7 linked regions of the Homo sapiens genome follow. The protein of the gene in region 1 interacts with the protein of each later gene in a pairwise test. Each region holds a gene or a part of one and is shown in the gene's direction. Other genes may lie near its edges.

What was found.
Region 2: the proteins of HSF2BP (region 1) and RAD51D interact in binary tests that used the Homo sapiens proteins (3 or more experiments, as listed by UniProt).
Region 3: the proteins of HSF2BP (region 1) and SHISA6 interact in binary tests that used the Homo sapiens proteins (3 or more experiments, as listed by UniProt).
Region 4: the proteins of HSF2BP (region 1) and EAF1 interact in binary tests that used the Homo sapiens proteins (3 or more experiments, as listed by UniProt).
Region 5: the proteins of HSF2BP (region 1) and WDR25 interact in binary tests that used the Homo sapiens proteins (3 or more experiments, as listed by UniProt).
Region 6: the proteins of HSF2BP (region 1) and CAMSAP3 interact in binary tests that used the Homo sapiens proteins (3 or more experiments, as listed by UniProt).
Region 7: the proteins of HSF2BP (region 1) and FAM124B interact in binary tests that used the Homo sapiens proteins (3 or more experiments, as listed by UniProt).

What each region holds. Positions count from the first base shown.
Region 1 is NC_000021.9:43,533,989-43,537,488, reverse strand, and holds part of HSF2BP (heat shock factor 2-binding protein), read left to right. Parts: intron 1-3,500. UniProt on the Homo sapiens protein: Meiotic recombination factor component of recombination bridges involved in meiotic double-strand break repair.
Region 2 is NC_000017.11:35,109,861-35,113,360, reverse strand, and holds part of RAD51D (DNA repair protein RAD51 homolog 4), read left to right. Parts: intron 1-3,500. UniProt on the Homo sapiens protein: Involved in the homologous recombination repair (HRR) pathway of double-stranded DNA breaks arising during DNA replication or induced by DNA-damaging agents. Bind to single-stranded DNA (ssDNA) and has DNA-dependent ATPase activity.
Region 3 is NC_000017.11:11,261,713-11,265,212, forward strand, and holds part of SHISA6 (protein shisa-6 isoform 1 precursor), read left to right. Parts: intron 1-1,653; coding exon 1,654-1,814; intron 1,815-3,500. UniProt on the Homo sapiens protein: Involved in maintenance of high-frequency synaptic transmission at hippocampal CA3-CA1 synapses.
Region 4 is NC_000003.12:15,440,356-15,443,113, forward strand, and holds the end of EAF1 (ELL-associated factor 1), read left to right. Parts: 3' UTR 1-2,258; downstream 2,259-2,758. UniProt on the Homo sapiens protein: Acts as a transcriptional transactivator of ELL and ELL2 elongation activities.
Region 5 is NC_000014.9:100,522,985-100,526,484, forward strand, and holds part of WDR25 (WD repeat-containing protein 25), read left to right. Parts: intron 1-2,885; coding exon 2,886-3,056; intron 3,057-3,500.
Region 6 is NC_000019.10:7,598,863-7,602,362, forward strand, and holds part of CAMSAP3 (calmodulin-regulated spectrin-associated protein 3), read left to right. Parts: intron 1-3,500. UniProt on the Homo sapiens protein: Key microtubule-organizing protein that specifically binds the minus-end of non-centrosomal microtubules and regulates their dynamics and organization.
Region 7 is NC_000002.12:224,392,108-224,395,607, reverse strand, and holds part of FAM124B (protein FAM124B), read left to right. Parts: intron 1-3,500.

The sequences.
Region 1 (3,500 bases):
CTTTGGAGGTGGCCAGGAAGCCCATAGGAGGAGGGAATGCTCAGTGTGTGCCCTGAGAGCTTTGCCACTGTCAGAAAGCACCTGACAGGAACAAGTTTGATTGTATTTGACACATGCCGGCACTACCACAGAAAGTTTTAGCAACAGATAAGAGGGGACATCTGTACTCTCAACTTCTTTTTTCATACTTCCTATTGAAGTTTTCATCTCTACTCTCAGGCATTTAATTTCTAAGACTGCTGTTTATTTTTAATTGTCTTAAAAAATAGCATCCCATTCTTGTTTAACAGATGATATAGCTTCTTTTACCTCCTTGAGGAAGATATTAATAATAGTTTTTTAAAACTTTTCTTCTCACTGCACAATCTCTTTTCTTTGTCCTCCTTTTGTTCCTGTTTAAAATGATAGCCATTTATCTTTTTCTCAGGTGTCTGGTGATGTGTGGTTGTCTGGTCATGTTTAACAGTGGGATTTATAATGCCGATTGGAAGCTGTGAGCATATGGGTGGAGCTTCTGAACTTTTCTGCAGTGTGAGCTGGTGCATCAATTAATTGGGAACCCATAGGTCAGTATCTTCGACTGTGTTGTCTTGGGTTGTTCAGATTGTCTGGAGAAGACTCACCCACCCTTATTTCTGGAGGGATGAAGGCCTATAAACTCCGGAAACAAAGTAGAGATAGAGGGAATGTCTTAGAGCTTGTAGGTATGTGTTTATCTAATCCACATGTTTTCCAGACAGAACCTCCATCCTCAATTGTGCCTGATGTTTCACCTCCAGAGATTCTTTAGAAAATAAATGTCCAGGCCAGGTGGGGTGGTTCACACCTCTAATCCCAGCACTTTGGGAGGCTGAGGTGGGCGGATCACCTGAGGTCAGGAGTTCGAAACCAGACTGGCCAACATGATGAAACCCCGTCTCTACTAAAAATATAAAAATTAGCTGGGTGTGGTGGCAGGTGCCTGTGATCCCAGCTACTCAGGATGCTGAGGCAGGACAATCACTTGAACTGGGAGGCGGAGGTTGCGGTGAGCTGAGATTACGTCACTACACTCCAGCCTGGGTGACAGAGTGAGACTCTGTCTCACAAAAAAAAAGAAAAGAAAAGAAATGTCCAGTCTCTACTAGGGAAGGGCATTTTTCCAGAGGCAGGGAATAGGGGAGAGGGTCCAGGGATCTAATTTCTTATTATTATTTTTATTTTTTTTTAGTTTTGAGATGCAGTCTTAACTCTGTCGCCCAGGTTGGAGTGCAATGGCGTGATTTCAGCTCACTGCAACCTCTGCCTCTGGGGTTCAAGTGATTCTCCTGCCTCAGCCTCCCAGGTAGCTGGGATTACAGGTGCCTGCCATGACACCTGGCTAATTTTTGTATTTTTAGTAGAGACAGGGTTTCACCATGTTTTTCAGGCTGGTCTCGAACTCCTGACCTTAGGTGATCCACCTACCTTGGCCTCACAAAGTGCTGGGATTACAGGCGTGAGCCACCAAGCCTGGCCTTCTTCTTATTTTTAATATAAAGCCAGATTTGTTGAGTTATAATTTACATAGAACAAAATTCACTTGTTAGTAGACAATTGTATGAGTTGTGACATAAAACTATCTCAGCATATAACTCATATGCTGAGTTATGTGGTAAGTATGTGTTTAAATGTATAGGAAATTGCCAAATTGTTGTCTCAGGTGGTTGTACCATTTTATTTATTTTATTTTATTTTATTTTATTTTATTTTATTATTTTATTTTATTTTATTTTATTTTATTTTATTTTATTTTATTTTATTATTTTATTTTATTTTATTTTATTTTATTTATTTTATTTATTTTTGAGACAGAGTCTCGCTCTATTGCCCAGGCTGGAGTGCAGTGGCACGATCTCGGCTCACTGCAACCTCCACCTCGTGGGTTCAAGTGATTCTCCTGCCTCAGCCTCCCAAGTAGCTAGGATTACAGGCGTGCACCACCACACCCAGCTAATTTTTGTATTTTTAGTAGAGATGGGGTTTCACCATGGAGGCCAGGCTGGTCTCAAGTTCCTGACCTCAGGTGATCTGCCTGCCTCAGCCTCCCAAAGTGTTGGGATTACAGGCGTAAGCCACTGCGCCTGGCCTGGCAGTACCATTTTAAATTTTCACCACTAATCTATGAACATTCCAGTTGTTCCTCATTCTTGTCAACACTTGGTATTTTCAGATTTTTATTTTTTAATTTTAGCCATTCTAATAGGTATGGATTTAATTTCCATTTTTCTAATAGCCATGATGCTGAGCATCTTTTTGTGTGCTTGCCATTTGTGTATCTCCTTTGGTGAAGTGTCTTTTCAAACACTTTCCCTATTTTTATTGGGCTGTTGTGTTACTGAGTTTTCAGAGATGTATGTGTATTCTGGATTTAGGTCCTTTATCAGATACGTGTTTTGCAAATGTTTTGTCCTCATCTAGTGGCTTGTCTTTTCATTGTGACTGTCTTTTGAAGAGCAGATTTTTAAAATTTTGGTGTGGCTAATAAATTATTTAGTTGTATGGATTATGCTTTTGGTTTTGTGTCTAGGAAATTGTTACCTAATTCAAGGTCACAAAGATTTTTCTCCTGTTTTCTTCCAGAAGTTTTAAAATTTGGGGTTTTACATTTAGGTATGTTATTAATTTTTGTATAATTTTTGTATGTTAGGCAAGGTATAGATTGAAGTTCTTTGTTTTTGCATATGGATGTTCAATTTTTCCAGCACCATTTGTTGTAAAGGTTATTCTTTCTTGATTGAATTGAATGTATACCTTTGTTGAGAGTTCACAAAGCTGTGGTCTGTTTTTGGATCCTCTAATTTTATTTCACTTATCTCTTTGTCTGTCGCTCTGTCACTTGACCAGTACCACACTCTTTATGGCCATAAATGTTGAAATCTAGTACTGCAATTCCCCAACATTTCTCTTTCTCTAAATTGTTTTGTCTGGTCTAGTTCCTTTGTTTTTCCAAATAAATTTGAGAATTACTTGTTGATTTCTGCTAAAATTTCAACTTGGATTTTGGTTGGCATTGCATTGATTATATAGATGAATTTGAGGAGATTTGACATTTTAACAATATTGAGTCTTCTAGTCCATAAATATGGCATATTCTCTCCATCTATATGTCTGTGGATCCTTATATCTGTGTTTTGTTGTTTTCAGCATAGAAATCTTGCACATAGTTTCATGAGATTTATACTTAAGTGTTTCATGTTTTGGTGCTATTATATAATATATGGTAATTTTTAAAAAACATTAGATTTTTAATTTTTTGTTATAAGTATGTGGATACAATTGACCTTTGTATGTTGAATTTGTATTCTGTGACTTTGCTAAACTCAATTAGTTCTAATAACTTTTTTTCTAGTTTCTTTGGGATTTTCTGTATAGACAATCATATCATCTGCAAATAGAGACAGTTTCATTTCTGCCTTTCTAATCAATAAACCTTTTATTTCTTTTTCTTGCCTTACTGCACAGGCTAGGATCTCTAGTAT
Region 2 (3,500 bases), on another chromosome or scaffold:
AGAGGCGGAGGTTGCAGTGAGCCGAGAGCACACCACTGCACTCCAGCCTGGTGACAGAGCGAGACTCCGTCTCAAAAAGAAAAAAAAAATGGATGGGATGCTTACTAAAGTGCTGTTCGGCATATACAGAGAGGTCATGGGAGGTCATCAAGAACCATCTCAAGGACTGGAACCTAGGAAGGTGATTGTAGGGCTAGGAAAGGTACGCATGTGATCAGGCATTGGTACAGGCCGTGGCATAGAAGAAACTTCAGCCTAGAGATAGGGCAGGGCATGGAGGGTAGGTGGTGACCTGTTTCATGTGGTTGAGGGAGAGAACCTGGTTTAGGAATTGGCATGTCATGAGGTTTATCCCAAGTCTTTCACAGCCAGTGTTGATGATACAGAAGCGAAATAAAAGTGATAGCACCTTTCTGTTACTCATTTTTCTGGAATGATTATTGGGTGCCTCCTGTGTTTCAGGCACTGTGCTAGTGCTGGGGATGCGACAGGGATCGGACCCAGTCCTTGCCCCATGGTGCTCTCAGCTAGATGAGCAAGACAAACAAAAACAAGCAAATAACAAATAATTACAAACTCCTAGGACTAGTGAGGATACAAGACCAACACATACAAATCAACTGCATTTCTCTATACTCACAGTGAACATGTCAAAACTAAAATAAAAAACACTACCATTTATTGGCCGGCCGCAGTGGCTCATGCCTGTAATCCCAGCACTTTGGAAGGTCGAGGCAAGTGGATCACCTGAGGTCAGGAGTTCGAGACCAGCCTGGCCAATATGATGAAACCTGGTCTTTACTAGAAATACAAAAATTAGCTGGGCGTGGTGGTGGGTGGTTGTAATCCCAGCCACTTGGGAGGCTGAGACGGGAGAATCACTTGAATCTGGGAGATGCAGGTTACAGTGAGCGGATATTGTGCCACTGCACTTCAACCTGGGTGACAGAGTGAAACTGTCTCAAAAAAACAAAACAAACAAAATGGCTGGGCGTGGTGGTTCACGCCTGTAATCCCAGCACTTTGGGAGGCTGAGGTGGGCAGATCACAAGGTCAGGAGATCGAGACCATCCTGGCTAACACAGAGAAACCCCATCTCTACTGAAAATACAAAAATTAGCTGGGCGTGGCAGTGTGTGCCTGTAGTCCCAGCTGCTGGGGAGGCTGAGGCACGAGAATGACGTGAACCTGGGAGGCAGAGCTTGCAGTGAGCCAAGATTGCGCCACTGCACTCCAGCCTGGGCGACAGAGCGAGACTCCGTCTCAAAAAAACAAGCAAATAAACAAACAAACAAAAACACAATGCCATTTATAGTTGTTTCAGAGAAATGAAATACTTGGGTATAAGTCTAACAAAGCATGTGTAGAATCTGTATGCTGAAAATTTTTAAATTGTTGATGAAAGAGATCAAAGATGACTCGGATAAATGGATGACATGTACTTTGTTCATGGATTGGGAGACTGAACATAATGAAGATTTCAATTGTCCCCAAGTTGATCTGTAATTTAACGCAGTTCCTATTAAAATCCCAGCAAGTTTTTTTTTTCTATAGACATAGACAAGCTTATTCTAATAATTACGGGAAGACCAGTTTTACCTAGATTAGCTAAAACAATTTGGAAAAAGGATAGCTGGAGGAATCAGTCTACCCAGGGTTAAGACTTGCTATATAGCTACATAATTAAGCCTAGTGTGGTATTGACCAAGGGACAGATGGACACAGATCAGTGGAACAGAATAGATAACCCAGAAATAGACCTCCACAAGTATACACAACTAATTTTTTTTTTTTTGAGACAGAGTCTTGCTCTGTCACCCAGGATGGAGGGTACTGCTGCTATTACAGCTCACTGCAGCCTTGACCTCCCTGGGCTCAGGCAATCCTTCCACCCCAAGCCTCCCGAGTAGCTGGGACTACAGGTGTGGGACACCATGCCTGGTTATTTGTATTTGTATTTTTTTTTTTTTAGACGGAGTTTCTCTCTCTCTCTTTTTTTTTTTTTTGAGATGGAGTTTCGCTCTTGTTGCCTGACCTGGAGTGCAATGGCGTGATCTCGGCTCACCGCAACCTCCGCCTCCCGGGTTCAAGCGATTCTCCTACAGGCACATGCCACCAGGCCTGGCTAACTTTTTTGTATTTTTAGTAGAGACGGGGTTTCTCCATGTTGGTCAGGCTGGTCTCGAACTCCTGACCTCAGGTGATCCACCCGCCTCGGACTCCCAAAGTGCTGGGATTACAGGTGTGAGTCAACGCGCCTGGCCTGAGTTTCTCTCTTTTTGCCCAGACTGGAGTGCAATGGCGTGATCTCGGCTCACTGCAACCCCCGCCTCCCGGGTTTGATTCACCTGCCTCGACCTCACGGGTAGCTGGGATTACAGGTGCATGCCACCATGCCCAGCTAATCTTGTATTTTTAATAGAGATGGGGTTTCACCATGTTGGCCAGGCTGGTCTTGAACTCCTGACCTCAGGTGATCGCCCGCCTCGGCCTCCCAAAGTGCTGGGATCACTGGCGTGAGCCACCGCGCCCAGCCTGTTTGTATTTTTTTTATAGAGACAGGGTTTCATTATGTTGCCCAGGCTGGCCTCAAACTCCTGGGCTCAAGCAATGCTCCCGCCTCAGCCTCCCAAAATGCTGGGATTACACACAATTGATTTTTGACAAGGGTACAGAAACAATGTGTTGGAGGAAAGACAGCCTTTGAACAAAGGGCGCTGGAGCTATTGGACATCATAGGCTAAAAATATACAATAATCAACCTAAACCTTATACCTTATACAAAAATTGAAAATGGATCATAGACTTAAATGTAAAACCAAATTGTCTAATTTTTAGAACAAAACAGGAGAAAATCTAGGCAAAGAGTTCTTAGATTTGATGCCAAAAGTATGATCCATGAAAAAATTTTTGATTAATGGGGCCTAATCAAAATTTAAAACTTTTGCTGTGCAAAACAGAATGAAAAGAGAAGTACAGAATGGGAAACATAGTTACAAGCCATGTATTCAACAAAGGACTTGTATCTAGAATGAAGAAAGAATTCTTAAAACCCAACAATAAAAAATCAAACAATTCAATTAGAAAATGGGCAAGGGCTGGCTCACACCTGTAATCCCAGCACTTTGAGAGGCTGAGGTGGTCAGATTGCTTGAGCCCAGGAGTTCAAAACTGGCCTGGGCAACGTGGCAAAAACCCTGTCTCTACCAAAAAAATACAAAAATTAGCTGGGTGTGGTGGCACATGCCTGTAGTCCCAGCTACTTGGGGGAGCTGATGTGGGAGGATCACCTCAGCCTGGGAGGTCAAGATTGCAGTGAGCTGTGACCATGCCACTGAATTCTAGCCTGGGTGACACAGTGAGACGTGAGACCCTATCTCAAAAAAAAAAAAAAAGCCAGGCGTGGTGGCTTACGCCTGTAATCCCAGCACTTCGGGAGGCCAAGGCAGGTTGATCACCTGAGGTCGGGAGTTTGAGATCAGCCTGACCAACATGAAGAA
Region 3 (3,500 bases), on another chromosome or scaffold:
ATGGACTTTTGGGTTGTATCTACCCTTTGGCTGTTATTAATACTGCTGCTATGAACCTTTGTACACAAGTTTAATGCAACATATATTTTTCATTGTTCTTGGGAATACCTAGGAGTAGATTTGCTGGGCCATATGTTAATTCTGCGTTTAAGGAACATTGCAGTTTTGAGGAGCTGCTAAACTGTTTACCAAAGGGATTGCAGGGTTTTCCATTTCCACCAGTAGTGTATGAAGGCTCCAATTTCTCTACCTCCTTGCCAATACTTGGTATTATGTGGCTTTTTGGTTATAGCTATCCTAGTGTGTATGAAAAGGTATCTCAGTGTGATTTACAGTTTTGGGACTAATATCTAGGTATATAATCCATTTTGAGTTAGTTTTTTATATGGTGTGAGGTAAGGATCCAACTCCCTTCTTTTTCATGTGGCGATCCAGTCAGTTGTCCCAGGACCATTTTGTGAAGAAACTATTCTTTCCCCCACAATTTACTCAGATGCATTTTTAAACTGCTGCAGTTGTCACTTTTCATGGGGGCAGAGTGTTGGAGCTGGACTCCTGGTAAGAGGGAAGCCTTGGGGTGGGCAGGGCCCCACCCATCAGAGACACCCCTCGAGAAGATGGAATAGTCTTTGCCTGGCATGTGCAAAACGGGAGTGCATTGAGGACTGGGGACCTGGATCTGAAGTGACAGTATCCAGGTGTAGTTTCTTGTGGCTGTCCACACTCATCTGTTTCCCACTGCCAGTGGGTATCTCACATGTCACACCCACAGAGGGCATCCTGTTTGAAAGCAAATAGGAGAGCGATTCCCCCTAAATTATGAACCCCTAGATGGCAGGAATTGGGTCCCATTGATCTGTGTCTCTTCAATGACTGATGCATGCTGAATCGTCAGTCAATGCATGTTTGGTTGTTGAAGCTAGGCGCTGAGTTAACAAAAGCTGCTTTCTCTGAGTAACTGGACCTCTTGCAGGGGGGCGGGTCTCTCCTGCTATGGCAGAGTCTCTGCCTGTCTCTCTTTCTTCCTGTGTATTTTTCCCCTGTGTTTGTGATTGCTCCCTCCTCTAAACTCCAGTTGTCTTCAATGTCTGCACCATCCACGTGTTTTGATTTTTATCTTTTCATCTCTATGTCCTGTCTTTGCAGCTCAATCACACCCTTCCTTGATAGCAGGAGCTGTGTGTTGTACTTATTTGGGTCTCCAGTATCTAGTACATGATACTCAGTGTGTAGTTTTGGATGATGAAGTGGTCCCCTGATATTAGTGACCTGCTGCTGAATTTGAGGCCGATGGTTTCAGCCCTTCACCATAGTGGCATTCCACTGGCCAGCTGCTATAGATACCTGCCTGGCATAGGTGGATATTTGGGGAGCCAGTATTTTGAAAGGGCTCAGAGTTTACTGATGTGAAATAAATTAAAGAAAGAAACCGTAGTCCCAGCCTTTTAGTCTGTACCTCCAGGCATGGTAACCTTTACCCTGTGTCCCCCCTGAGACCAACACCAGATGTAGCTGACTATTGAGAGCTGAATGCTGTCTCTGTCTCTTCCTGCATCTCTGTAAATCAAAGGGCATATGAAAGTAAGCCAACTCCCCTCATGGTTGTGCACACCTGCTCAGTGAATCTCATTATGTGATCTCCTCCTTGTTTAGGGCTCTGGCTGACATCTTAAGACAACAGGGACCAATCCCCATAGCACACTGTGAAAGAGAAACTATCTCGGCTATCGATACCTCTCCCAAAGAGAACACGCCGGTCAGATCGTCCTCCAAAAACCACTACACTCCTGTGCGTACGGCCAAGCAGACTCCAGGTAAGTAACAGCTGGGCACCTTGATTCTTTGCTGAGGCTGGTGAGAGGTTTCAGGATGTTTCTGCTCTGGTGGGGCAGGTTGTGGACCATGATGGTGTGATGAGGGACTCTCATGGACAGGCAGGCTGGCAAAAGATTTTTGGGACTCTCTCCCTGGGGTGAGTTTGGAATGGGCAAGACTGCTGCCGGTCAGTGTCTGGGCTGGATGAGGACTGACAATTTCAGGCACTTGTGACCTAGTGAGTGGTTGGTATAATTCTCTTACCGGAAAAGGAGCTTGCAGCATCCATAGCAGGGTATGGCCATCCATTCGCCCACGTGGTGGGAAACTTTAGGCTGAGTAGGATGCTAGATATGTGACAAGAAATTACTGTACCCCAATGTAGAGCCTGCTCAACTATTGGGATCTCAAAGAGCTCCTTCCTGAGGGTGAGAATTAACATCTGTATTTTTGAGTGACCTTTTCCTGTGCTCTGTAGATTCCCTGGATGTATGATGAGTTGCCATAAAATAACAATATGCCTTTTACTTTTTGTACTTATCATAGCTATAACTGTGAAGAAAATGGCAGGGCTTATTTTCCTTGTCTTACGGGTCAATATATGCAGCTCAAAGAAATTTAGTAACTTGAACAAGGTCACTGAGATGTTAATAATAATTTAAAAATCAGTAATAACAGTAATATAACCTAAATATTTATTGGAATCTTGTTCTGTGCCAAGAGTCATGCTGAGCCTTTTACATATATTTTCTTATTTATTCTCCACAGCAATCTTAGAAGTACTTATATTATCCCCATTTTGTGTGAGGAATGGAAAGGTTAAGTAACTTTCCCAAGGTCACATGATTAGTAAGAGAGAAAAACAAGATTCAAGCCAAGGCAAATAGTTAACAACAGTAAGAACTAGGAAACCGTAATATCCTTACCCAGTTAAGGGTATGAATCCAAAATATCTGAGTGGACAGTCTCCTTAACAAGTACAGCTTGGGAAGTCATCTCTTGTAGTGAGTGTTTCCAGATAGCCTCTTACTGGTACTAATCCTAGTCCCAGAGAAAGCTTTTACTTTGATGCTTGGATCTGAAATCTGCACATCTATTGCTCAACAGTTTTCAGAGGATGGGCAATGTGATCTGAACTAAACCTGCAATAAGGATATATAGCCACTAGGTGGCAGTGGGTGTGATCAAATCCAAACTATAGCAAAGGTGCTGATGAGACCAAATTTATTTTCCATTCATTCTTTAATTTTCTTAAATTTATTACGTCAGAAACCTAATATTTGCTTTTAAAATAGCATTCTTAAATCTTTTGAGAACCTAATAAAGGCAGATGACACTCCCTCCTGAAAAATACAAATACATATACATATTCATATTCAATCAACAGTTTGTATATGATTGAGGGGAATTAATAGATTCATCCAAAGTTAAAAACCTCTGCTGTAAAGGTAAAGATGAGGGCTCCACCTTTGCAAAATGTCTAAGATGCATTTTCAGCTTTAATACCATAGGTCCTTAAAACAAGCAATAGAAGGAATCTTGGCAAAAACTTCTGGACCAGTGGTCATCTACATGGCAGCGTTTTAGAATCACCTGAGGAGGTCTTAAAATTGCTGATGCCTGGGCTCCACAGAATCACTAGAATTTCTAGGGATGGTGCTGGCATCACATTAGTGTTTTAAACA
Region 4 (2,758 bases), on another chromosome or scaffold:
TGGAGGAAACTGGTTGCTAGTCAATGTTCTATATTTAATGAATGTGTGATAAATCATCCTGTAATCAGTATGGAGTAACCTGTTTTTGTAGTTTGGATGAATATGTCCTGAGAAATTTCCATCCACTTTGGTTCAGCGGACATCAAGGTAGTAATAATAATTTTTCCTCCACAGGTCCCTCCACTCATATGGCCTCTCCCTCCCCAGCTAGTGGAGGGGAAGCAGTCTGGACTTAGAAAGGAAATAGGTGGTCTGTCATAGGGGCTTTCATTAGAGTTAAACTTCATAGAGTCAACTGTTTCATCATCATAGTGAGCCCAGAGAGCCACTGCCCAGCAGCATGCTCACACCACCTACCCTAGTGTAGGTAATAGGTCTACGCTAGGACCCCGTGCTGGGCTCTCAGCCCATCATGAGATTTTGGTGGATTTAATGGCAGGTAGGAACTTATTTATAGTGGATTGATAATTGCTTTATAATTCCTTGGTAATGACAGCTCAGGGAAGGTTTCACAAGGTCATGATCAGGAGACTTGAATTGTTACTGGATGTAGGAATTGTTTCACTGCTCTTAACTTGCTCAAACTGGGGCAGGTTCCAGGAACTTGAACTAAAAATATCTATTTAAGCCTCTCTCTCTTTCTCTCCTCCCCAACTTTTTTCTGAAAGCCTTGATTTCTGTAGACAGAACTATGGTTTTTGGCATGTTGGGTCAAGACGTGTTTCTATAGGAAATGCTTGCACGTGGCACTGGCTTGGTGAGTCAAGCTTCCTGAGCTTCAGACCGTTTGTCCTGTCATCTGTCCTGCCCAACACTGTATGGTTTTTCTCTAGCACGGCTTCAATTTTGTTCTCTGCACAAAGCCTTTGGTGGTTCTGCCCTCTGCCCTCCAGCTTTACCCACCAGAGTAAGCAATCTTTTCTTTTTAGAAATCAAGAATTTGGCTTCACAGATGGCTTCTCACAGATGCCCTCCTGCCAGCCAAACCGGACTTGTTCTTCCTGCCTCTGTGCCTTCTCTCATTCTCCTTCTCTCCCTCCATACCCCACTTTTGAGGTTCTGTGGGTACCATCTTTGTGGACTCTTGTCTTTTTTTTCAACCCACATGGAGTGCCCTGTGTGTACATACTGACCTTTTTTTTTTTTTTTTTTTTTTGCTTGAACTCTGGTCGGTATGAGCTCCTTAAAAGCAGGTACTGGGCTGGCTGTGGTGACTCATGCCTGTAATCCCAGCACTTTGGGAGGCTGAGGTGGGAGGATTGCTTGAGTCCAGGAGTTTGAGACCAGCCTGGGCAACATGGCGAGACCCTGTTTCTACAAAAAGAAAAAGGGAAAAAAAAAGCAGGGACTGTCATTCTCATCTCCTCCCTGGGGTATCCACAGGAATGGACATTCAAATGGTTGTAGCCTGGTGGGGTAGAAGGCAGAGAAGACTACCCAGCCAGTGAAGTGCAGAGGATAGACATAGGAAAACATTCCAGGCATTTGGAGACAGCTGAAAGTATCCATGCTGACTTTCATGATTTAGAAGTCTTTAACTGAATTATTAAAATTGCCTTTTTTTTGTGCTGTACAATGTCTACTGTACTGTGGGTCATTTAGATGAGATGAAAAACTTAATTAAATCTGAAGTGTCAGAGGCGCTTAGTAAGCCTTAGTAAAGTTGTGATTGAAGAAACTTAATACAAATGAACTAGAGGTTTGTAATCATGCCACTCACTAACGATTTTATTTCTGTAGCAGAATCATTTTTTCTATGTAAGGTGTTAATGTGTGTGTATGTGCTTTGGTTGTAGGAAAACTTGAAAATTCCAAAATCCTTATTTTCCTATTTGAGAGGCTGGTTCAGCAGGGTGTGTGTGTGTGTGTGTGTGTGTGTGTATGAATGGTATATTTATTACATTATTTTGAAAGAGAATTAGTGTGTTATGTGGATAATGTTATATACAGCCAAAGTGGATGTTTCTATTTGGCAAGGAAGGTAGGATTTCTGAAACTCAGGCCTTAACCAATAGGTTGGAAGACAAGACCAATTGAAGAGTTAGGAAATGTGAGTTTTTGTTACTTCTGTTATTCCAGTCTTGGTTTCATTGTCTCATTCTTTATTTTTAAAATCTTGTGCCTAAAAGTTTTTTTGCTTAATTATGAAGTAGACATGCATGTTTACATTTATGTAAAATATTTGCTGTGTAAAGTATTTTTTGTTTATTCTCTTAAAAGATCACTATATTTAAATAAAAGTGAAGGTCAGCAACACATTTCTTGTCTTGGTGGGTTTCATTTTCTTTTAGAAATCAATGAGCAATATAGGGTTCTTTTAAGAACCTTCTGTGCTTAAGCCTAAATAGCTAACTAAATGGATTCCTTTTTAATTTGGTGTTTATAATCATTAGGAAGTATACCTCAGCTTTTAAAAGGTGTGACATTCAAAACTGAAGGACGAACTTCAGTTTTTAAAAGGTATGAAGTTCAAAACTGAATTACATCTGAGGCCATTTTACTTGGTCTGAGAAGGAGGGCTTAGTTTGGGTCTGAGAACCATGCAACAGTTAAACTGAATCCCTAGACATATCCTATTGTCATTTTAGTTTACCAGATTCCTTCTGCCTGGAATGCTATGCCACACACACCTCTGACTCCCAGCTGACATTTGGCTAGAAATCCTGACCTCCTGCTTCCATTCTCCACTTCTGCTTCAGCAGTGCTCACATTTACCTGTGGTCTTGGCTCCTCTGCTAGACTGTATAAACTTCTAGGT
Region 5 (3,500 bases), on another chromosome or scaffold:
ATCAGGGCCAGGGGAAGGACCTGTGAGTGAATGTCATCTCACCCGGGGGTCCTGGGAGAGCCAGTGGCAAAGGCTTTTGTGTGTTGCCTCAGCCCTGCATGCCAGGATGTTGCTGGGAGCCGGAGGACCCTGGATTGCTACTTTTAAAGTAGTCGACCTTTTGTTCATTCACTCATTCATTTATGCATTTACTCACTTATCCAGCATCAATTTGACACACCTTACTGATGCCTGCAGGGGCAGACCCAGTGCTAGCCAAGGGTGACCCAGAAATGTGGGCAGCAGGGCGTCTGTGCCAGGAGCTCACAGTCCTGTGGCGTAGGCAGGTGGCTGATGTGGGCAGCTAAGGGAGCACAGGGTTGCGTGTGAGCCCAGAGCAGTGCCTCCCCACCCCCTGTCCTTCAGGTCTGGGTGCAGAGGACTGGCAGCATGGGGTGAGGGATAGCTGGGTGCATCCGCCAGTCCTTCTTCTTTCTGAGGACCAGGAGTACTTAGAGGCTCAGAGGTGTGGTTGGGGCCCTCGTGTTGATGACTCAAAAACTAGACCTAGGAAGGGAACGAACCTTCCCCAGGCACATAGTAAATCTGTAGTGGGCCAAGATTGGAGCCCAGTGACCACCCCCAACCCCGTGCACTCTGGAAGTGGCAGGAACCCAAGGCTGCTCTGGACGAGTCAGCAGCGGCCCAGCATCCCCCAGGTTTGCTGGTGGGCCGAGTGGTGGGCAGATTGTAGGGACATAACCCCTGCATGTGTCATGATCGATCTTCTGCTTTCCCCAAGACCATGTCCCTGCATCTCTACCAGGGGCCCGCAGTTGCCAGAAGAGTCTGAGTGAGACTCCCTTTTGGATCCAGCTCGTTAGGCTCGGGTAGCAGCGTCCCATGCCAGCTGTTGGTGTAATTAAGGTTGCCATAAAACCCACCAGCTAGACACACAAATGGCTCCTTTGCTCTTTCCTGGGGCATGAGCAGTTGTGAAGGCGAGTAAATCATGTTCGGTGGCGATCACTTCAAAGGCCAGCCTTCCACTTGCAGCCACATTATTGGCAGGGATCGCCCATAACACGGCTTGTTTCCCAGCCATTCACTTTTATGACACCCTAATGAATTGGGCCATTTCCATCCATTCTCAGAAAATGTACGGAACAACTGTTTTGGTTCTCCTCAAAAAGTTTGTCTTGGGAGGCAGGTGGTGTGTTGGCAGGGGCATGTAGGTAGTTCTTGGCTCCTGGGCAAGTTGCCTGTCTCTGAGACTTCATGCCCACCGAGAGAAGCTACCTATGGGGCTCTTGTCATGAGATAACTTATGTGAACCCCCCAGCCAAGGCCCAGCACCTAACGGGCACTCAGCGAGTGGCAGGGAGGGCCGTCATCTTCCTCATCCTTTCCCTGGGTCAGCCTCTTAGGGATCAAAGTGTTGAGGCTGGTGGGGGCTGTGATATCAAGGCCATGTGGGAGGATAGAGCAGGCACAGGCATGCAGAATCCAGTGCGTGGAGGAAGGCAGGCAGCCGTGCCGTGAGGGGCAGCTTGTCTCCCTGTTCTGCATTCAGAAGGCTTTTTTTTTCCACCCCTGGATCATTCTTTAGGCTTCAGGGGGCCCACTCTGAAATCTCCCTGGTTGAGGGTTGCTTTGGAAGAGGCTCAGAGAAGAGCGGTCATCTGTTGCCTACCCTCCCCCAGGAATTACAGAGGCAGGAATTGACCAGCAGGAGAATGAACCGTGGGTCCCAGGGAAGCCGTGGAGGTCGGAAGAGGCTCCACCATGCCCTGGCCCTGTGACCTTGAGCAAATCCGTACCTCTTCCTGGGCCTCAGTGAACCTCATCCAGAGAATGGGCCTCAACCTCCTCCTCCTCTAACCTAAACTGAAATTATGGAGTGACACATTTAATGTGAATTTGATGTATACATTTTAAGGAGGATGACAGAAAATATGTCTGCAAAATTTGAAAGGTATGAACTCCAATTAAAAAGTCAAGGTGGCTCATTTTGAGCTGGCGGGGCCCAGGGACTGAACTGTTTATGCTGCAGCCACATGGTGGCGGCCCAGGAACTGGTAAAGGGACCGGCCGGCCCCTGCGACCAACTTGAGACCTTGCTGCGCTTCCATGGCTGCGCGTGGGTGCCCAGCATGTTATTTCCATATTGTCATTAAAGTCCTGTCCTCTGTGAGTTTGTTAAGTGGAGCTACTTGCTGGTCCTGGTACTGGGACCCTTCTCCATCCCCTCACCAGAGCTGGATACTTGAGAGCAGAAGCTGAATGTGATAAAATCCTCTAAGAAAGCAAAACAACTGCTCAATACTTAATAAAGTCAGTTTATGAGACAGCAGACTGTGAAGTATCGGTGATGATGCTAAAACAATACAAAGTGTCGTTAAAGCTAAAATATGTCCTGTGATTCTGGCTTTATGGTCTGTCCCCAAGCACACTTGCTCCTGCATTACTGTGGCTCCTCTGGGACAACAATCTGGGACTTTGCAAGCTGTGAATTATGTGACGTCTTCAGAAGCAGGACCCACTCAAAGCATGACCCCAGTGTTGATGGATGTCAATATGCTCTCGAGGTGCCCTTGGCGAGTCAAGGCCCTTCCCTTTGCGCTTTCCCTGGGATCCTGCTGCTCTCAAGGGGTGATAGGGATGCCTCTCTGGACCCATGTGGCAATAGAGCAGGGGGGCTGAGAAGCTGACAGACACTGGACTGGGCATGGGGCAGGAGGGTCCATGATTCCATATATGGCTTGTGGGTGCTGCTCAGCCTGGGTGTGTGTGGCCCAGCATAAACTTCACTAAACCTGCCTGCCCCCTGGGTCCTTGGCCTTCCCTGCATAGGCGCCTGTCCGTGCTGCCAGGCCTGCCAGCATGACCGGTGTCCGCTCTTGCAGGTGATGAGAAGCTACAAGGCGACCATCCAGCAGACCTTGGACATCCTGTTCCTCCGGGAAGGCTCCGAGTTCCTGAGCAGCACAGACGCTTCCACCCGGGACTCAGCTGACCGCACCATTATTGCCTGGGATTTCCGGACCTCTGCCAAAATCTCCAACCAGATTTTCCACGTAAGAAATCCCATTTGGCATTGCTGTCAGTTTCAGCCACAGAGCGTATCCATGTAGTTCTGGTCTGTCTGAGGTCCCAGGTCCCTTCTGTGGGAGGAGGCTCACTGGACTGAAATCTCCAGGATGAGGGTAGTCAGGTCTCAGCCTGCCGCACACATGGAGAGCTTGCTGTGGGCTTCCAGATGCAACCTCCTTCTGCTCTTCTTGTGCCAGCACAGCAACCCCACAGGGTAAGGGTCTGGTGGGGGGCGGTTCAGTCCAGATCAATGGGGAACGTGGCAGTGCAACCTGAGAAACCCCACCCTCCCACTGCCACCACAACCAGCTACTCAGAAGGGGTTTCTGACCCTCAGTGGCATTGGCAGTTGATGTAGCCCAGGAGTTCAGAGCAGGGGCCCCACAGTTAGAACACCTGCATTAAGGTTTTGGATTCACTAGGACCTT
Region 6 (3,500 bases), on another chromosome or scaffold:
TGATGTGTGAGGGAAACTCAAGTTCATGTTGGACATTTTTATCCTGGACAAGTTATCTCAGCTCTCCAGGCCTTGGTTTTCTCATCTGTACAAGGGGTATAATAATAAGTGTCGTAAGGATTAAATGACTGGATGCAGGGAAGGTCATGGTATAAATAAATGGTTGGGTGTGGTGGCATGGGCTTGTAGTCCCAGCTACTCAGGAGGCTGAGGCAGGAGGATTGCCTGAGCCCAGGAGTTCCAGGGTACAGTCAGCTATGATCACGCCACTGCACTCCAGCCTGGGCAACAGAGTGAGATCCTGTCTCAATCAGCCTTCCATCCATCCATCCACCCATCCATCTACCCACTCATCCATCCATCCACCCACCCATTCATTCATCCATCCATCCACCCACCCACCTACCCACTGCACTCATCCATCCACCCACCCACCCCACTCATCCATCCACCCACCCCACTCATCCATCCACCCACGCACTCATCCATCCACCCATCCATCCACCCACTCATCCATCCATCCACCCATCCATCCACCCATTCATTCATCCATCCATCCATCCACCCACCTACCCACTGCACTCATCCATCCACCCACCCACCCACCCACCCCACTCATCCATCCACCCACGCACTCATCCATCCACCCATCCATCCACCCACTCATCCATCCTTCCACCCACCCATTCATTCATCCATCCATCCATCCATCCATCCATCCATCCACCCACCCACCTACTCACCGCACTCATCCATCCACCCACCCCACTCATCCATCCACCCACCCACCCACCCCACTCATCCATCCACCCACCCCACTCATCCATCCACCCACGCACTCATCCACCCACACACTCATCCATCCACCCACCCCACTCATCCATCCAACCACGCACTCATCCATCCACCCACTCATCCACCCGCCCATCCATCCACCCGCCCATCCATCCACCCACCCACCCACCCATCCACCCACCCACCTACCCACCCACACACTCTCCCACCCACCCATCCACCTATCCACCCATCCATCCACCCACCCATCCACCCATCCATCCATCCACCCACCCACCAACTCATCCACCTACCCACCCACCCACTCATCCACCCACCCACCCATCCACCCATCCATCCACCCGCCCACTCATCCATCCACCCGCCCACTCATCCATCCACCCGCCCACTCATCCATCCACCCGCCCATCCATCCATCCACCCACCCATCCATCCACCTACCCACACTCCCACCCAGCCATCCACCCACCCACCCTCCCACCCATCCACCCACCCACCCTCCCACCCATCCACCCACCCACCCATCTACCCATCCGTCCGTCCATCCACCCACCCACCCATCTATCCTTCCACCCACCCACCCACCCACTCATCCATCCACCCATCCACCCACCCACTCATCCATCCACCCACCCACCCACTCTCCCACCCTCGCACCCACCCACCAACTCATCCACCCACCCACCCACTCATCCACCCACCCACCCATCCACCCATCCGTCCACCCGCCCACTCATCCATGCACCCGCCGACTCATCCATCCACCCGCCCATCCATCCATCCACCCACCCACCCACCCCCTCATCCATCCACCCACCCTCCCACCGTCCCACCCATCCACCTATCCACCCATCCACCCACCCACTCGTCTACCCATCCATCCATCCACCCACCCACCCCCCATCCATCCACCCACACACCCACCCACTCATCCATCCACCAACCCACCCACTCATCCACTCATCCATCCACCCACCCACTTATCCATCCACCCACCCACTCATCCACTCATCCATCCACCCACCCACTCATCCATCCACCCACCCATCCACCCACCCTTCCATCCACCCATCCATCCACCCACCCACCCATCCTCCCACCCTTCCACCCACCCACCCATCCACTTATCCACCCATCCACCCACCCACCCATCTACCCATCCATCTATCTGTCCATCCACCTACCCATTCATCCATCCATCCATCCACCCACCCATTCATCCATTTATCCATCCATCCATCCATCCACCCACCCATTCATCCATTTATCCATCCATCCATCCATTCACCCACCCATTCATCCATTTATCCATCCATCCATCCATCCATCCTAGCTATGTTGTAGACCTGTGCTATTCAATATGGTGGCCACCAGCCAGATGTGGCTACTGAGTCACTTGAAATGTGGTTGATCAGAACCAAGATGTGCTGTAAATGTAAAATATACTCAGGGTTCCAAAGACTTGGTCCAAAAACAAACAACAAAAACCAGTGTAAAATATCTTATGAATAATATTTTTATGTTGATTACATGTTAAAATAAGAGTGGGATATGTCTTGGGTCAATGAAATATATTACTAAATTCTTATTGTTTCTACATATGTAATGTGGCTTCTAGGAAACTTGACGGCTCATTGGGCTCACATTATACGCATTATATTTCTTTTTTTTTTCTTTTTGAGACAGCATCTTGCTCTGTGGCCCAGGCTGGAGTGCCGGGGCACAATCTCGGCTCACCACAGCCTCCGTCTCCTGGGTTCAAGTGATTCTCGTGCCTCAGCCTCCTGAGTAGCTGGGATTACAGACATGCGCCACCACGCCCAGCTAATTTTTGTATTTTTAGTAGAGGTGGGGTTTCACCATGTTGGCCAGTCTGGGCACATTGTATTTCTATCAGACAGCAGTGTTCTGCTGTAAATAATGCTCAGTAAACATTTTAGCCAGGTGTGGTAGCACATGCCTGTAGTCCCAGCTACTCAGGAGGCTGAGGTGGGAGGGTCCCTTGAACTCAGGAGTTCAAGACCAGCCTGAGCAACATAGTGAGACCCCATCTCTAAAATAAAATAAAATAAAATAAAATAAAATAAAATAAAATAAATGAATAAATAAAATAAAAAGAAAGTGGGGCCAGGTGTGGTGGCTCATGCCTGTAATCCCAGCACTTTGGGAGGCTAAGGTGGGTGGGTTGCTTGAGGTCAGGGTTTGAGACCAGCCTGGTCAACGTGGTGAAACCCCATCTCTACTAAAAATACAAAAAGTAGCCGGGCATGGTGGTGCACGCCTGTAGTCCCAGCTACTTGGGAGGCTGAAGCAGGAGAATAGCTTGAACTTGGGAAGCAGAGGTCGCAGTGAGCCGAGATGGCACCACTGCACTCCAGCCTGGGTGACAGAGCAAGATTGTCTCAAAAAAAAAAGGAAAGAAAAATAGAATAAGTTTATAGTATAAGGCAGTGGTTCTCAACTGGTGATGATTTTGACACTTAATTGACATTTGGCAGTGTCTGGGGACATTTGTGGTTGTCATTACTTGGGAGGAATGTACTACTGACGTCTAGTAAATACAGACCAGAGATTTTGCTAAACATCTCACAGTGTACAGGACAGGACAGCATCCCCTGAATACAAAGAATTTTCCAGCCCCAAGTACCAATGAACCAAGGTGGAAGAACATCGGTGTATAATAAGTGTCTGATAAATGTCAGTGT
Region 7 (3,500 bases), on another chromosome or scaffold:
TTGGCAGTTTTAATTCTGCTGTCTCAATTCTTAGTGGGTGCAAAATGATAGTGGGTTCAACCTTCCCTTTATTCGTTCAAACAGTCCCTCTGCTTTTCTCCCTGTGCTTTTGCCTCTGGTGGTAGTGACAGTGTCAGTGTGTTCTGGGGGAAGGTAGCATGGGTGATGATGTCCGCCTCTTTTTTTAAACCTCCTGCAACTTAAACTGTGCCCTCAGTCAAATTAGCTATTTTGTCAAATCAACCACATGCTGCAGTATCTCTAGTCAACTACTGCTGGCTTTCAGCTTTCCACAGCTGAGACCCGTGTCCAAAGTTGTATTTTTTGTACTTTTTATAGATTTTTTTTCAATTTTTTGCATTATGGCTCTTCTCCCCTGATTCACCTGCTGATGCATTCATCTCCTGCCCTCCTCCTGGCAGGGGCAATCCAAGGGTAGAGTCCATGACTTTGGTGTCAGGCTCTGGCAGACTCTAAATTCCAGGTCACTGAGTTAGCATTGGTGATCTTCTCATTCTGTTTGATGTACAGTAGGCAAACTTTATAAATTAAATGATAAACCTCCCTCAAAGCCACTTGAAACGCTCAGCAAGGTCTATATTTCATGGCCCTGTGGGAGATGTGACAGCCATGATCTTGTTAGCCTTTGGGTGGGTGTTCTGTGTGGTATCACACTGCCCTGGTGGTCTAATGAGGAGCTGGACCCTCCTGCAAGCGCCTGCAGTACCAGGCAGCCTGCAGGAAATGCACTGTAGAGCTGCAGCCACCCACCTTGTGTGTAGGGAAGGAGAAGGTGAAATTGACTGAGGATGTCAAGTAACATGGAGGAAGTGTGACTTGGGGGATTGACTGAATGGGCTGTAGCAAAGTATAGGGCTGGAGAGTTCAAAGGAGTTTAGAGAATTTTTTGTGCACTGAAAATGGGTGCAGGAGGACACAAAATGGGATTTGAAGAAATCCATTTATTACGGTGTTTAGAGAAGGGGCAGACATGCTCATACCTATAATATATAATTTAGGACCATAATCCTGTTAGCATCAAATAGGACAGGTTGGAAGGGGGCTTGACTGACCACTTCAGAGGGGACTTCAGTTTTCCAGTCAAAGCCGGTGCAGTTTTGAAATAGGGAACTCATAATGGAAATAGGAGGTTAAATTGCATGGGTAGACTTGACTGAATTTGGCAGTAATTGGACATGGAGGGTGAAGAAGAGGAAGGTGATGATGAGTCTGGACACATTGGGCTTGAAGTGCTTGCAGGTCTTTCAAATGAAGAGATTCCATGGTCAGGTGGTCTCTGAGGGCTGGAACTCAGGAGGGGGCATGGGCTAGGGGCATAGGTGGAGTTGGTGGCTGAAGCCCTGGAAAGGATCAACATTACCAAGGAAGAGAGTGTAGAGAGAGAAGAGGTAAAGAGAGTGCCTGGAAAATGCGTGCACTTCCGGAGGAGAGGGAAGAAGAACCAGTGAGAGACGCTGAGAAGAAGCAACCACAAAGCCAGGAGGACGAGGAGATTGTGGTGTCATGGAAGTCAATGTCGCTTGGTGGCTTTCAGTCCCTAAGATGTGGCTTCTCAGGTGTGCTACAGCAGGTCCTTCAGGTTCTGTCCTGGTCTCCTCACTGGGCCCCCAGTTGCTTGTGTGTTGCCATTGCCCCTGGAGAGATCAGCACCTGCTGCAGGCCCTGTGTCCTCCACCAGTAACTGCTGCTACCACCACTCCGGGCTTATGGAACCGTCCCCAAACACTGCTGAGACCAAGCTGTAATTTCAACAAGATCTTTCTGAAGAGTTGAGGACAAAGAGGTGGGGAAAAACCCCCCAAAGAATTCTAGGCCAGAAGAATAACTTACAAGTACTTCTAGATGTCGCTATTCTCAGAGCTCCCAGGCAAGCTATGGCCTTGAGGTCCCTCCCAGGTCTCCTCCAAGTCTTCTTTACCCACTTCTCCTGGAGGTGCTCCAGGCCAAACTCACACAGTGAAGGAGGATGGTTTTCTCCCTTCTCTCTGAGGTCCACCTTCCAGGTCTTCTTTCCTTGATAAGGGTGACTGCTTCCCAAGTTGACTAAATGGGAAAGGTCACACACACCTCGCCTCCCACCACCATTGTTTGATGTTCAGTAGGAAAACTTTATAAATTACAAGATAAAACCTCCCTGGAAGCTAGAGAGGTTTTAGAATAGGGTGGTGTCCTATTCTTGCAACCTGGGCAGGACAGATAAGTAACAGAACAAGAGTACAACATCAGTACAGTCTGGGGTGTACCATCTCAACAACACATGTTGGTTGCCGGCCATCCATTCTGGAGGCTTTTCCTGACTTAATCATAGGGATGAGCTGAAACTCATGCCTGTGTATCCTTCTTGCAGTCCTGGGGCCTCACCTCTGGATCTCCTGCAATCAGCACCTGAGCTAGAATCCACATAACTCTCCAAGACAGCCATGTGGGAGAAAGTCATGTGATTTTGAAAGATTTGGTTTCACACATATGCTCTCAATGTAGACCCATTTCTCAACTGAGACCCATTTCTCTAGACGAATGCACTGTCCTCTAGGACTTTCTGTGATGATGAAAATATTCTGTATCTGTGCTATTCGATACGGTGGCCATTCGCCACATGTGGCTACTGAGCATTAGAAATATGGCTGGTGAGACTGATGAACAGAATTATTAATTTTATTATATTTTAACAATTTAAATGGCCTTATGTGGTTGGTGACTGCTGTATTGGACTGCCCTGGCCTAGGTTATTTCTAAGGTCTCCTGCATCTTGAAGCTTCTGTAACTATACTGTGTATAGCCTCGTTGGTGACAAAACTTTATCTCTTATCTCATCTGTTGTTTTTTTTTTTTGAGACAGAGTCTTGGTCTGTTGCCCAGACTGAAGTGCAGTAGTGTGATCTCGGCTCATTGCAACCTCCCTCTCCCAGGCTCAAGCTATCCTCCTGCCTCAGTCTCTGGAGTAGCTGGGACTACAGATGTGCACCATCATGCCCGGCTAATTTTTGTATTTTTTGTAGAGACCGGGTTTTGCCATGTTGCCCAGGCTGGTCTCAAACTCCTGAGCTTAAGTGATCAGCCAGCCTCAGCATCCTAAAGTGCTGGGATTACAGGCATGAGCCACCATGCCTGGCCTATCTCATCTTTTTTCTTTGCTTTTTTAGAGAGAGGGTCTGATCCTGTCACCCAGGTTGGAGCATTAGTGGCATGATCATAGCTCACTGCAGCTTTAAACTCTTGGGTTCTAGTGATCTTCTCATTTCAGCCTCCTGAGTAGCTGAAACTCTAGGCGTGCATTACCATGCCTGGATAAGTTTTTAATGTTTTGTAGAGATGGGAGTCTTGCTATGTTGCCCAGTCTGAACTTGAACTCCTGGTCTCAAGGAATCTTCCTGCCTTGGCCTCAAAGTACTGTGATAACAGGCATGTGAGCCACCGTGCCAGCGCCAAATCCTCATCTCTTAAGGGTAGAATTCAGTTCAATTTTTGGAAACAATCAA